3 separate regions of the Homo sapiens genome follow, and all the other regions are linked to region 2. The links come from fine-mapping of genetic effects on gene expression. A gene starts in region 2. Each other region holds a variant in brackets. All regions are shown on one strand. Distances are between the middles of the regions.

What was found. PIP is the estimated chance that this variant, and not a neighbour inherited with it, causes the effect. A credible set is the group of variants that fine-mapping cannot tell apart.
Region 1: its variant is the best candidate, but not a certain one, in a credible set for the expression of PATL2 in whole blood (TOPMed, PIP 0.52).
Region 3: its variant is the best candidate, but not a certain one, in a credible set for the expression of PATL2 in whole blood (TOPMed, PIP 0.60).

Annotation. Positions count from the first base shown.
Region 1 is chr15:44,685,243-44,690,467 of GRCh38, forward strand. All of the region lies in intron 3 of PATL2 (PAT1 homolog 2), which reads right to left. Among named protein-coding and RNA genes, the nearest start is that of PATL2, 23 kb to the right of the region's middle. The variant G/A (reference allele first, on the strand shown) is at 2,775.
Region 2 is chr15:44,709,083-44,714,262 of GRCh38, forward strand. It overlaps PATL2 (PAT1 homolog 2), which reads right to left and starts at 2,241. Exons shown (of 18, transcript NM_001387263.1): 1 at 1,938-2,241; 2 at 1,789-1,847; 3 at 1,014-1,132. B2M (beta-2-microglobulin) reads left to right here and starts at 2,435. Exons shown (of 4, transcript NM_004048.4): 1 at 2,435-2,531. The coding sequence starts at 2,465. RefSeq lists an enhancer at 2,256-2,918.
Region 3 is chr15:44,673,933-44,679,157 of GRCh38, forward strand. PATL2 (PAT1 homolog 2) reads right to left here. Exons shown (of 18, transcript NM_001387263.1): 4 at 2,543-2,633; 5 at 1,554-1,759; 6 at 218-298. The coding sequence starts at 2,558. Among named protein-coding and RNA genes, the nearest start is that of SPG11, 13 kb to the left of the region's middle. RefSeq lists an enhancer at 1,738-1,787. The variant G/A (reference allele first, on the strand shown) is at 3,000.

The DNA of each region.
Region 1 (5,225 bases), 24 kb before region 2:
AACAATATTAACCTTAAATGTAAACAGGCTAAATGCCCCAATTAAAAGACACAGACTGGCAAACTGGATAAAAAGTCAAGACCCTGCCAGGCACGGTGGCTCACGCCTGTAATCCCATCACTTTGGGAGGCCAAGGCGGGTGGATCACGAGGTCAAGAGATTGAGACCATCCTGGCCAACATGGTGAAACCCCATCTCTATTAAAAATACAAAAAATTAGCTGGGCCTGGTGGCACACACCTGTAATCCCAGCTACTTGGGAGGCTGAGGCAGGAGAATTGCTTGAACCCAGGAGGCAGAGGTTGCAGTGAGCTGAGATTGCGCCTTTGCATTCCAGCCTGGGCAACAGAGTGAGACTCTGTCTCAAAAAAAAAAAAAGAAAAAAATCAAGACCCATCAGTGTGCTGTATTCAGGAGACCCATCTCATGTGCAAAGACACACATAGGTTCAAAATAAAGGGATGGAGGAATATTTACCAAGGAAATGGAAAGCAAATAAAGCAGGGGTTGCAATCCTAGTCCCAGATAAAACAGACTTTAAACCAACAAAGATCAAAAGAGACAAAGAAGGGCATTACATAATGGTAAAGGGATCAATGCAGCAAGAAGAGCTAACTATCCTAAATATATATGCACCCAATACAGGAGCACCCAGATTCATAAAGCAAGTTCTTAGAGACCTACAAAGAGACTTAGACTCCCACACAATAATAGTGGGAGACTTTAACACCCCACTGTCAATATTAGACAGATCAACGAGACAGAAAATTAACAAGGATATTCAGGACTTGAACTCAGCTCTGGACCAAGTGGACCTAATAGACATCTACAGAACTCTCCACCCCAAATCAACAGCATATACATTCTTCTCAGCACCACATCGCACTTGTTCTAAAATTGACCACATAATTGGAAGTAAAACACTCCTCAGCAAATGCAAAAGAACGGAAATCATAAAAAACAGTCTCTCAGACCACAGTGCAATCAAATTAGAACTCAGGATTAAGAAACTCACTCAAAACTGCAAAACTACATGGAAACTGAACAACCTGCTCCTGAATGACTACTGGGTAAATAACAATATTAAGGCAGAAATAAATAAGTTCTTTGAAACCAATGAGAACAAAGACACAACGTACCAGCATCTCTGGGCCACATTTAAAGCAGTGTTTAAAGGGAAAGTTATAGAACTAAATGCCCACAAGAGGAAGTAGGAAAGATCTAAAATTGACACCTTAACATCACAATTAAAAGAACTAGAGAAATAAGAGCAAACAAATTCAAAAGCTAGCAGAAGACAAGAAATAACTAAGATCAGAGCTGAACTGAAGGAGACAGAGACATGAAAAACCCTTCAAAAAATCAGTGAATCCAGCAGCTGTTTTTTTGAAAAGATCAATAAAATAGACAACTAGCCATACTAATAAAGAAGAAAAGAGAGAAGAATAAAATAGACACAATAAAAAATGATAAAGGGGATATCACCACTGATCCCACAGAAATACAAACTAGCATCAGAGAATACTATAAAAACCTCTATGCAAATAAACTAGAAAATCTAGAAGAAATGGATAAATTCCTGGACACATACACCCTCCCGAGACTAAACCAGGAAGAAGTTGAATCCCTGAATAGACCAATAACAAGTTCTGAAATTGAGGCAGTAATTAATAGCCTACTAATCAAAAAAGTCCAGGACCAGATGGACTCACAGCTGAATTCTACCAGAGGTACAATGAGGAGCTGGTACCATTCCTTCTGAAACTATTCCAAACAATAGAAAAAGAGGTAATCCTCCCTAACTCATTTGATGAGGCCAGCATCATCCTGATACCAAAACCTGGCAGAGACACAACAAAAAAAGAAAATTTCAAAGGTCAATATCCCTGATGAACATTGATGTGAAAGTCCTCAATAAAATACTGGCAAACCAAATCCAGCAGCACATCAAAAAGCTTATCCACCATGATCAAGTCAGCTTCATCCCTGGGATGCAAGGCTGGTTCAACATACACAAATCGATTAACGTAATCCATCACATAAATAGAACCAATGACAAAAACCACGTGATTATCTCAATAGATGCAGAAAAGGCCTTCAACAAAATTCAACACCCTTTCATGCTAAAAACTCTCAATAAACTAGGTATTGATGGAACGTATCTCAAAATAATAAGAGCTATTTATGACAAACACACAGCCAATATCATACTGAATGGGCAAAAACTGGAAGCATTCCCTTTGAAAACCAGCACAAGAAAAGGATGCCTTCTCTCACCACTCCTATTCAACATAGTATTGGAAGTTCTGGCCAGGGCAATCAGGCAAAAGAAAGAAATAAAGGGTATTCAAATAGGAAGAGAGGAAGTCAAATTGTCTCTGCTTGCAGATGACATGATTGTATATTTAGAAAACCCCATAGTCTCAGCCCAAAATCTCCTTAAGCTGATAAGCAATTTCAGCAGTCTCAGGCTACAAAATCAATGTGCAAAAATCACAAGCATTCCTATACACCAATAATAGACAGAGAGCAAAATCACGAGTGAACTCCCAGTCACAATTGCTACAAAGAGAATTAAGTACCTAGGAATCCAACTTACAAGTCATGTGAAGGACCTCTTCAAGGAGAACTACAAACCACTCCTCAAGGAAATAAGAGAGGACACAAAGAAGTGGAAAATCATTCCATGCTCATGGATAGGAAGAATCAATATCGTGAAAATGGCCAAAGTAATTTATAGATTCTCTGCTATCCCAGCACTTTAGGAGGCCAAG[G/A]CAGGCAGATCACGAGGTCAGGAGATTGAGACCATCCTGGCTAACACAGTGAAAACCATCTCTACTAAAAATACAAAAAATTAGCCAGGTGTGGTGGCGGGTGCCTGCAGCCCCAGCTACTTGGGAGGCTGAGGCAGGCGAATGGCGTGAACCCGGGAGGCAGAGCTTGCAGTGAGCCAAGATCATGCCACTGCACTCCAGCCTGGGTGACAGAGCGAGACTCTGTCTCAAAAAAAAAAAAAAAAACTAGCTAAATAATAATAATAATAAAAAAAATGCTATCCCCATCAAGCTACCATTTACTTTCTTCACAGAATTAGAAAAAACTACTTTAAATTTCATATGGAACCAAAAAAGAGCCCGCATAGCCAAGACAATCCTAAGCAAAAACAAACAAACAAACAAACAAAGCTGGAGGCACCATGCTACCTGACTTCAAACTATACTACAAGGCTACAGTAACCAGAACAGCATGGCACTGGTATCAAAACAGATATATCGACCAATGGAACTGAACAGAGGCCTCAGAAATAACACCACACATCTACAACCATCTGATCTTTCACAAACCTGACAAAAACAAGCAGTGGGGGAAAGGATTCCCTATTTAATGAATGGTGTTGGGAAGACTGGCTATCCATATGCAGAAAACTGAAACTGGACCCCTTCCTTACACTTTATACAAAAATTAACTCAAGATGGATTAAAGACTTAAATGTAAGATTGAAAACCATAAAAACCCCAGAAGAAAACCTAGGCAATACCATTCAGGACATAGGAGTGGGCAAAGACTTCATGACTAAAACAATAAAAGCAATGGCAACAAAAGCCAAAATTGACAAGTGGTATCTAATTAAACTAAAGAGCTTCTGCACAGCAAAAGAAACTGTCATCAGAGTGAATGGGCAACCTACAGAATGGGAGAAAATGTTTGCAATCTATCCATCTGACAAAGGGCTAATATCCAGAATCTACAAAGAACTTAAACAAATGTACAAGAAAAAAGCAAACAACCCCATCAAAAAGTGGGCAAAGGATATGAACAAACACTTCTCAAAAGAAGACATTTATGCAGCCAACAAACATATGAAAAAAAGCTCATCAACATTGGTCATTAGAGAAATGCAAATCAAAACCACAAAGAGATACCAACTCATGCCAGTTAGAATGGTGATCATTAAAAAGTCAGGAAACAACAGATGCTGGGAGGATGTGGAGAAATAAGAATGCTTTTACACTGTTGGTGGAAGTGTAAATTAGTTCAACCATTGTGGAAGACAGTGTGGTGATTCCTTAAGGATCTAGAACCAGAAATACCATTTGACCCAACAATCCAATTACTGGGTACATACCCAAAGGATTATAAATCATGCTGCTATAAAGACACATGCACAGCTATGTTTACTGCAGCACCGTTCACAACAGCAAAGACTTGGAACCAACCCAAATGCCCATTAATGATAGCCTGGATAACGAACATGTGGCACATATACACCATGGAATACTATGCAGCCATGAAAAAGGATGAGTTCATGTCCTTTGCAGGGACATGGATGAAGCTGGAAACCACCATTCTCAGCAAACTAACACAAGAACAGAAAACCAAATACTGCATGCTCTCACTCATAAGTGGGAGTTGAACAATGAGAACACATGGACACAGGGAGGGGAACATCACACACCAGGGCCTGTTGTGGGGTGGGGGACTAGGGGAGGGATACCATTAGGAGAAATACCTAATGTAGATGACTGGTTGATGGGTGCAGCAAACCACCATGGCACATGTATACCTATGTAACAAACCTGCATGTTCTGCACATGTACCCCAGAACTTAAAGTATAATAATAAGAAGAAAATCTCAAAAATACTAAAAGAAAATATATGAATGTTGGCCAAGCATGGTGTCTCACACCTGTAATCCCAGCACTTTGGGAGGCCGAGGTGGGCGGATCACCTGAGGTCAGGAGTTCGAGACTAGCCTGACCAACATGGAGAAACCCCATCTCTACTAAAAATACAAAATTAGCCAGGCATGGTGGCACATGCCTGTAATCCCAGCTACTCGGGAGGCTGAGGCAGGAGAATCGCTTGAACATGGGAGGCGGAGGTTGCCATGAGCTGAGATAGCGCCATTGCACTCCAGCCTGGGCAACAAGAGCGAAACTCCGTCTCAAAAAAAAGTGAGTGTTTTCTAAATGTAAAGACGGACCTTCTAACTATCACCCCAAATCCATAGGCTATGAAGGGTGGCTGACAAATTTGTCTACAAAAAAATTTAAGATTGCTGAGTGGCAAATATAAAACCACAAATAAAGTCAAAATATTTTTTTTTTTTTTTTGAGACTGGGTCTCACTGTGTTGCCAAGGCTGGAGGGCAATGGCACAGTCACAGCTCACTGCAGCCTCCACCTCCTGGGCTCAAGTGATCCTCCCACCTCAGCTTCCTGAGT
Region 2 (5,180 bases):
GAGACAGGGTTTCACCATGTTGGCCAGGCTGGTCTCAAACTCCTGATCTCAAGTGATCTGCCCGCCTTGACCTCCCAAAGTGCTCAGATTACAGGTGTGAGCCACCACATCCAGCCCCAAATTGTTTATACCATTTTATATTCCTACCAGGATTGTATGAGAGTTCCAGTTCTTCTAAATTCTTGCCAACATTTACTACTTTGAATAAATGTTCATTGTAAAAAAATTTTAAGAGGGTTATATAGGGGAAAAAAAGGCCGCTATTAATCTGTTAATTGCACTACTGGGAGATAAAGCTATTAAACTGTCATATTTGTGGCTGGGCGTGGTAACACATGCTTGTGATCCTAGCACTTTAGGAGGCTGGGGAAGGAGGATCACTTGAGACCAGGAGTTCGAGACCAGCCTGGGCAACACAGCAAGACTCTGTCTCCACAAAAATATTAAAAATTAAAAAAAAAAGAAATTGTCATGTTTGTAGACTTCCCAAATTTGCCATCCTAGGCAAACAGTGCTCTTGTTTTTAAACAAATAGTTGTATACATAATTTTCCCCCTCACTATTCAAAACATGTCATAAATGGTAAGTCCAAGAAAAATACAGGTATTCCCCCCCAAAGAAAACTGTAAAATCGACTTTTTTCTATCTGTACTGTTTTTTATTGGTTTTTAAATTGGTTTTCCAAGTGAGTAAATCAGAATCTATCTGTAATGGATTTTAAATTTAGTGTTTCTCTGTGATGTAGTAAACAAGAAACTAGAGGCAAAAATAGCCCTGTCCCTTGCTAAACTTCTAAGGCACTTTTCTAGTACAACTCAACACTAACATTTCAGGCCTTTAGTGCCTTATATGAGTTTTTAAAAGGGGGAAAAGGGAGGGAGCAAGAGTGTCTTAACTCATACATTTAGGCATAACAATTATTCTCATATTTTAGTTATTGAGAGGGCTGGTAGAAAAACTAGGTAAATAATATTAATAATTATAGCGCTTATTAAACACTACAGAACACTTACTATGTACCAGGCATTGTGGGAGGCTCTCTCTTGTGCATTATCTCATTTCATTAGGTCCATGGAGAGTATTGCATTTTCTTAGTTTAGGCATGGCCTCCACAATAAAGATTATCAAAAGCCTAAAAATATGTAAAAGAAACCTAGAAGTTATTTGTTGTGCTCCTTGGGGAAGCTAGGCAAATCCTTTCAACTGAAAACCATGGTGACTTCCAAGATCTCTGCCCCTCCCCATCGCCATGGTCCACTTCCTCTTCTCACTGTTCCTCTTAGAAAAGATCTGTGGACTCCACCACCACGAAATGGCGGCACCTTATTTATGGTCACTTTAGAGGGTAGGTTTTCTTAATGGGTCTGCCTGTCATGTTTAACGTCCTTGGCTGGGTCCAAGGCAGATGCAGTCCAAACTCTCACTAAAATTGCCGAGCCCTTTGTCTTCCAGTGTCTAAAATATTAATGTCAATGGAATCAGGCCAGAGTTTGAATTCTAGTCTCTTAGCCTTTGTTTCCCCTGTCCATAAAATGAATGGGGGTAATTCTTTCCTCCTACAGTTTATTTATATATTCACTAATTCATTCATTCATCCATCCATTCGTTCATTCGGTTTACTGAGTACCTACTATGTGCCAGCCCCTGTTCTAGGGTGGAAACTAAGAGAATGATGTACCTAGAGGGCGCTGGAAGCTCTAAAGCCCTAGCAGTTACTGCTTTTACTATTAGTGGTCGTTTTTTTCTCCCCCCCGCCCCCCGACAAATCAACAGAACAAAGAAAATTACCTAAACAGCAAGGACATAGGGAGGAACTTCTTGGCACAGAACTTTCCAAACACTTTTTCCTGAAGGGATACAAGAAGCAAGAAAGGTACTCTTTCACTAGGACCTTCTCTGAGCTGTCCTCAGGATGCTTTTGGGACTATTTTTCTTACCCAGAGAATGGAGAAACCCTGCAGGGAATTCCCAAGCTGTAGTTATAAACAGAAGTTCTCCTTCTGCTAGGTAGCATTCAAAGATCTTAATCTTCTGGGTTTCCGTTTTCTCGAATGAAAAATGCAGGTCCGAGCAGTTAACTGGCTGGGGCACCATTAGCAAGTCACTTAGCATCTCTGGGGCCAGTCTGCAAAGCGAGGGGGCAGCCTTAATGTGCCTCCAGCCTGAAGTCCTAGAATGAGCGCCCGGTGTCCCAAGCTGGGGCGCGCACCCCAGATCGGAGGGCGCCGATGTACAGACAGCAAACTCACCCAGTCTAGTGCATGCCTTCTTAAACATCACGAGACTCTAAGAAAAGGAAACTGAAAACGGGAAAGTCCCTCTCTCTAACCTGGCACTGCGTCGCTGGCTTGGAGACAGGTGACGGTCCCTGCGGGCCTTGTCCTGATTGGCTGGGCACGCGTTTAATATAAGTGGAGGCGTCGCGCTGGCGGGCATTCCTGAAGCTGACAGCATTCGGGCCGAGATGTCTCGCTCCGTGGCCTTAGCTGTGCTCGCGCTACTCTCTCTTTCTGGCCTGGAGGCTATCCAGCGTGAGTCTCTCCTACCCTCCCGCTCTGGTCCTTCCTCTCCCGCTCTGCACCCTCTGTGGCCCTCGCTGTGCTCTCTCGCTCCGTGACTTCCCTTCTCCAAGTTCTCCTTGGTGGCCCGCCGTGGGGCTAGTCCAGGGCTGGATCTCGGGGAAGCGGCGGGGTGGCCTGGGAGTGGGGAAGGGGGTGCGCACCCGGGACGCGCGCTACTTGCCCCTTTCGGCGGGGAGCAGGGGAGACCTTTGGCCTACGGCGACGGGAGGGTCGGGACAAAGTTTAGGGCGTCGATAAGCGTCAGAGCGCCGAGGTTGGGGGAGGGTTTCTCTTCCGCTCTTTCGCGGGGCCTCTGGCTCCCCCAGCGCAGCTGGAGTGGGGGACGGGTAGGCTCGTCCCAAAGGCGCGGCGCTGAGGTTTGTGAACGCGTGGAGGGGCGCTTGGGGTCTGGGGGAGGCGTCGCCCGGGTAAGCCTGTCTGCTGCGGCTCTGCTTCCCTTAGACTGGAGAGCTGTGGACTTCGTCTAGGCGCCCGCTAAGTTCGCATGTCCTAGCACCTCTGGGTCTATGTGGGGCCACACCGTGGGGAGGAAACAGCACGCGACGTTTGTAGAATGCTTGGCTGTGATACAAAGCGGTTTCGAATAATTAACTTATTTGTTCCCATCACATGTCACTTTTAAAAAATTATAAGAACTACCCGTTATTGACATCTTTCTGTGTGCCAAGGACTTTATGTGCTTTGCGTCATTTAATTTTGAAAACAGTTATCTTCCGCCATAGATAACTACTATGGTTATCTTCTGCCTCTCACAGATGAAGAAACTAAGGCACCGAGATTTTAAGAAACTTAATTACACAGGGGATAAATGGCAGCAATCGAGATTGAAGTCAAGCCTAACCAGGGCTTTTGCGGGAGCGCATGCCTTTTGGCTGTAATTCGTGCATTTTTTTTTAAGAAAAACGCCTGCCTTCTGCGTGAGATTCTCCAGAGCAAACTGGGCGGCATGGGCCCTGTGGTCTTTTCGTACAGAGGGCTTCCTCTTTGGCTCTTTGCCTGGTTGTTTCCAAGATGTACTGTGCCTCTTACTTTCGGTTTTGAAAACATGAGGGGGTTGGGCGTGGTAGCTTACGCCTGTAATCCCAGCACTTAGGGAGGCCGAGGCGGGAGGATGGCTTGAGGTCCGTAGTTGAGACCAGCCTGGCCAACATGGTGAAGCCTGGTCTCTACAAAAAATAATAACAAAAATTAGCCGGGTGTGGTGGCTCGTGCCTGTGGTCCCAGCTGCTCCGGTGGCTGAGGCGGGAGGATCTCTTGAGCTTAGGCTTTTGAGCTATCATGGCGCCAGTGCACTCCAGCGTGGGCAACAGAGCGAGACCCTGTCTCTCAAAAAAGAAAAAAAAAAAAAAAGAAAGAGAAAAGAAAAGAAAGAAAGAAGTGAAGGTTTGTCAGTCAGGGGAGCTGTAAAACCATTAATAAAGATAATCCAAGATGGTTACCAAGACTGTTGAGGACGCCAGAGATCTTGAGCACTTTCTAAGTACCTGGCAATACACTAAGCGCGCTCACCTTTTCCTCTGGCAAAACATGATCGAAAGCAGAATGTTTTGATCATGAGAAAATTGCATTTAATTTGAATACAATTTATTTACAACATAAAGGATAATGTATATATCACCACCATTACTGGTATTTGCTGGTTATGTTAGATGTCATTTTAAAAAATAACAATCTGATATTTAAAAAAAAATCTTATTTTGAAAATTTCCAAAGTAATACATGCCATGCATAGACCATTTCTGGAAGATACCACAAGAAACATGTAATGATGATTGCCTCTGAAGGTCTATTTTCCTCCTCTGACCTGTGTGTGGGTTTTGTTTTTGTTTTACTGTGGGCATAAATTAATTTTTCAGTTAAGTTTTGGAAGCTTAAATAACTCTCCAAAAGTCATAAAGCCAGTAACTGGTTGAGCCCAAATTCAAACCCAGCCTGTCTGATACTTGTCCTCTTCTTAGAAAAGATTACAGTGATGCTCTCACAAAATCTTGCCGCCTTCCCTCAAACAGAGAGTTCCAGGCAGGATGAATCTGTGCTCTGATCCCTGAGGCATTTAATATGTTCTTATTATTAGAAGCTCAGATGCAAAGAGCTCTCTTAGCTTTTAATGTTATGAAAAAAATCAGGTCTTCATTAGATTCCCCAATCCACCTCTTGATGGGGCTAGTAGCCTTTCCTTAATGATAGGGTGTTTCTAGAGAGATATATCTGGTCAAGGTGGCCTGGTACTCCTCCTTCTCCCCACAGCCTCCCAGACAAGGAGGAGTAGCTGCCTTTTAGTGATCATGTACCCTGAATATAAGTGTATTTAAAAGAATTTTATACACATATATTTAGTGTCAATCTGTATATTTAGTAGCACTAACACTTCTCTTCATTTTCAATGAAAAATATAGAGTTTATAATATTTTCTTCCCACTTCCCCATGGATGGTCTAGTCATGCCTCTCATTTTGGAAAGTACTGTTTCTGAAACATTAGGCAATATATTCCCAACCTGGCTAGTTTACAGCAATCACCTGTGGATGCTAATTAAAACGCAAATCCCACTGTCACATGCATTACTCCATTTGATCATAATGGAAAGTATGTTCTGTCC
Region 3 (5,225 bases), 35 kb before region 2:
AGTTGTCCCAGTACCACTTATTAAGGTGTCTATCCATGCCCCTGCTTGGGCACACCACCTCTGTCATTTATCAAGCTCCTCTATGATGGGGCAACTCCCACCTCCCACACCCATACCTCACTTTGGGTGCCTTAACTCCAGACCAGGGTTGGGGGTAGACTGAACATAATAGATGGAATCCTCACTACCCACAGTATGGAGACTGCAGCAGACTCACCTGCCACAGAAAATGCAAGGAGGCAAGTGACATTCCCAGCATACCAGGGGCCTTGACTCCAGGGGAGCTAAGCAGAGCTCTCTGGAACAGGAGGGAGGAAAAACCAGGCTCAAATGGGCCCCTGTAGTGTCTTCTGCATTCACCTGTGTTTTTGAGGTGGTGGGAGGAAGCAGCAAGACCAGGTGTTCCAACATCCAGGGCAGTGGCAGCTTGGCCCTCCCTCAGATTCAAAGTCAGCTGGGCCAGGATCCCTCTCCCTCTCCTGGGAGGAATAAGACTAGTGCAGTGGTCCTCCCTTATTCATGAGACATATATGTTCCGAGACCCCCAAGGGATGCCTAGAACTGGATAGTACTAAACCCTGTGTATAGTGCTTTTTTCTTATATATACATGCCTATGATAGTTTATATATATATTTAAAAAAAATTTTTTTTAGAGTCAGGGTCTTGCTCTGTCACCCAGGCTGGAGTGCAGTGGCACCATCATAGCTCACTGCAGGCTCAAACTCCTGAGCTCAAGCCATCCTCCTGCCTCAGACTTCTAAGTAGCTGAGACTACAGGCATGTGCTACCATATCTGGCTAATTTTTGAAAATTTTTTTTCTTTTTTTTTGTAGCGACAGGGTCTTGCTTTGTTGCCCAGGCTGGTGTGGAAGTCCTGGCCTCTAGCAACCCTCCCAAAGTGCTGGGATTACAGACATAAGCCACTGCCCCTGGCCAGTTTAATTTAAGAATTAGACACAATAAGAAATGAACAATAAAAATAGAACAGTTATAACAATATACTGTAATAAAAGTTATGTGAATGTGGTCTCTCTTAAAATACCTTATTGTACTATACTTGCCTATTTTCAGACTATAGTTGACCAAGGGTAACTGAAATGGCAGAAAGTGAAACCATGGACTACTGTACCTTAGTAGTAGGTTGAAGGAAGTTCTGAAATCACCTCATATCTACATAGGAGTCCTTGTCCTTCTCCACTAGTTATGGGATCCAGGGGAATAAATACCAGGAATGGACTACTGAGACAGAGGGGCCCAGGATCAGGCAAACGTGACTCACCTTTAACGCTAGTAGCAGGGCCACCGCCTGTGGGCGATGCACAGCTCTGCTAGGACCTGGTTTTAAGGCGAGAACAGCATCAGAAATGAAGTGGGAGACAGGAGAAAGAGGGAAGGAGAGAGTCCCTAACTCAAGTTCAAGGCTTAAAAAGAAAGTGTTAATCCAGAACTTGTCTTAGAAAAGGGTAGAAAAGAGAAGAGGAATGTTTAGTGACAGCCTGTGAGCCACAGACAGTTCAGGACAACCCTCTCCCATTCCCTTCTGCCATGGTACCTGGGTGTTGTGGACAGCACCAAGTACAGCTGGATCCCCAAGATCATTCTCTTCCTCCTCTAGGTCTGGGTCCAGATCTGGGTCCAGATCCTCCTCGTCCTCCTCCTCTTCCTCCTCCTCCCCTTCATTCTCTTCTTCTTTTTCCAACTGGCAGGCAGACACCAGCTCCTCCTCAGAAGCCAAGGGGCCACAGGTCTTACCTGGCCCTTGGTTTAAGTGTGGGCCAGAGGAGAAGGTAAGATGGGGCTCAGCTGTGAGTCTTGTCTAGAGAGGCTGCTACTCAATAGCACTTCTGTTCATAAGCCATCTCCAGCACCACCTTTGAACATAACGCCTCCTGTTCTGTGGGTTTAACTCGGCCTCCCTTCTCCCAAGGTGCCCCGAACCATCCCCCAGTAAGTCAAATGGAACCTGAGCCAGGTGTGGTGGCTCGTGCCTGTAGTCCCAGTTACTTGGGAGGCCAAGGCGGGAAGATCATTTGGGCCCAGGAGTTTGAGATCAGCCTGGGCAACACAGTGAGACCCTGTCTCTAAGTAAAAAATTTAAAAAGCAAACAAAAGGAACCCGGCAGATACCAAACACCTTCACTTTCACATCCCCTCTTCAATTCCTTCATTAAGTTCTAGCACAGCCTTTTCCATCTGCTCTGCCCCACCCAACGCCCTTTCTATTGCCTCTTTGAACAAGTTCCACCTGCCCTGACTCACTGCAATTTAACCCTACTGTGTGCCATATACTTTACGTGCATATGTTCATTTAACAGTAATATGAGGCTGTCCTGGGTTGTTGTTGATAATTTTACTAGGTTGGTGAGAAAAATAAAGCCCAGAAGAGTGACCTTTCAGTCACCCATTATGATATAATTAGCAAGTGGAAGAATTTGGAATAACTTCCAGTGACTCTGGACATCCAATCCCATATGTGAAACAGACCAGCAACCTCTGCATGCTGGGGCATTTTATATAACATCACGGCCCACTTGTTGATACCTTCAAGGCAATTCATCTTGGCAGGCTGGTGGACTTCCTTCTTAGCCGTGTCCTCCAGTGAAACAGCATTGCCAGCCTCTGGAAGGTAAACCTGAGACAAGAAAGAGGCCAAGAGGCACCATCCTCAGTCAGTAAGGATGACATGGCACCCTAAAACAGCCATGGAATCCTCCCAGCAAGATGGTTAGAGAATTCTTGGCCATGGTCTTGAGGAGAGAGACCCTGGGGTCTCAGACTGCCATAAACACCCACCCTCCCAGCTCGGCTCTAGGGAGCTGTCCCACAAAGGGACAGAAATGAGGCACAGGCTAGAAGCAGGAAGAGAAGTACTTCCCAACCGACATCACCAGTCACCGTCCGAGTGTGGTGATGCCTTGCTGCCGACACCCACCACCTGACTGTTGCTGTCCTTTCTGTTTAAGTTATTCATAGCAGCCTGGGCCAGGACCTGTTTGCC[G/A]CTCCTGGCTTTAAAAGTCCCAGCTCCTCCCCTGCTCACCCATTAAAGGGCTAGCATCCTCCATCCATTGGGGCCTGATGGAAATATGAGAACATAGTTTAATGATTAAAAAAACGCTTGAATGGAGAAAAGACATAAACTGCATTTTTAGCCATCCATGGCTTTTAGTACAGTTTATTGGGATTGATATTTGGGGGCAGATAGTTAAAAAGAGGATCCCTGTTTTCCACACCCTTCATTGGTAGTTTGTGAGGTTGCATTTAATTTAATCCCTAGGTTTTGCTTCAACAAAATTGGATAGGAAAGTCCTGGGTAGATCCTGGGGAGGATGCCTAGCAACCACATTCCTGGCGCTTCAGGGCAGCGTACTTGAAGCCCTCAAGTCCACCTGATGATGCTTGCCCTTCACCGGGTCATGTGAGCTTAAGTCAGCTACTCAGCTCTGACTGATGAGAGACCCCTGTGAATTTGGAAGTCAGATCTTCATGGTAAAAACACTTTTGCATGAGATACACAGTCTTACATCTTCTTGGCTGCTCTAATGGCAAACTGGTCCAGAAGCTCAGGAGTAAAAACAAATCAACAACAACAAAAACAAAAACATAGCTGCTCCTGGTAGGCAAAACCCAACACCCTCCCAAGTCTCATCTAACCCTCAAGCAACCCTGGGTTCTGTGCCCACATCCTGTGTTCAGCTGAAACCCACATGACTTTGTAGAACTTCTGAATAAGAATAAAAACTAAGTTAATTTCCCTACATCAAAAATGAAAGTTAGGACCCTCTTGTCATGGTGATAAGACCATGATTCTTGGTGCCTTTAAAGGAAAATATTTGTTTCAGAAGTTTTACTGCAGGTCATAACTATATGGGTGGGGGAACAAATATAAGTAGCTTGAAAGTTACTGAAAAACTTCTCATATATCTTGAGATAGCATCTTACTCTGTCACCCAGGCTTGAGTGCAGTGGCATGATCTTGGCCCACTGCAGCCTCCACCTCCCGGGTTCAAGATTCTCCTGCCTCAGCCTCCCGAGTAGCTGGGATTACAGGCGGCCACCACCATGCCCAGCTAATTTTTGTATATATATATATTTTTTTTCAGTAGAAACAGGGTTTCGCCATGTTGGCCAGGCTTGTCTCAAACTCCTGACCTCAAGTAATCCACCTGCCTTGGCCTCCCAAAGGGCTGGGATTACAAGCACAAGCCACCACACCCAGCTGGGTTCTGGCCTTTTTGGTAATGTTATTCAGCTGTTTCTCTCAGGAACTTCCTAATAACGTACTTTAGCACTATTAACAAAAGGACCACATGGTGAATTTCAGTGTTCCAGAGGTGATTCATTAGGTTGTTGTAGAGACTAGATCTTAAGGAGAAACTTGTTGCATGAAGATTTTCATTCTGAAGGGACTTCTGGTACTGACTAGTACCAAAGCAGGTGGACTAGGGCTCAGTCTTAAAGATCACAGCCCTGCCCTGGCTGTTTGGAGTTTCACTTGGGACCTACTGTTTTTTATGAAGGTCCCCTACCCTTATCTGAAGTCTCATATGTCTACTGATCCCCTAGATGTTCTAACTTTCCTGCCATCATTTCATTATGTTAAGTTCAAGCCAAGCCTATGTTAGGCTTGGGGTAAACAGTGAATAAAGCAGATGCTTCCCACAGCCTGTTAGAGCTTCTTCTAGAATAAGAAGTACACACAGGTACACAGGATTGTTGGGTCAGATTTTAAAAAGACATTAGAGTGGCTCATACCTGTAATCCCAGCACTTTGGGAAGCTGAGGCAGGAGGATAGCTTGAGCCCATGAGTTCAAGACAAGCCTGGACAACATAGTGAGACCCCATCTCTATTAAAAATTTTTTCTTAAAGAAAAAAAATGACATTAGAAATATTTACATTTGCTACATAAAACACTCTTTTATGGGGAGATTTTTTATCCATTGTTTCAGGTTCTTTAATAGCAGTAGATCTAGTCTGGCTTTCAATTTCTTCTTGAGTTTTAAGTTATATATCTTCTAGGAATTTGTCCATTACTTATAAATTTTCAAATTTGTTGGCATAAAGTTGTTCATAGTATAAGTGTATTTAAAAATCCATGCTATAACTGTACTTTGTCTCTCCTGCCCCCTTTCATTTACTTGTTTATTTTGAGACAGAGTCTTGCCTGTCACTCAGGCTGGAGTGCATTGGCACGATCTCAACTCACTGCAACCTCCACCTCCTGT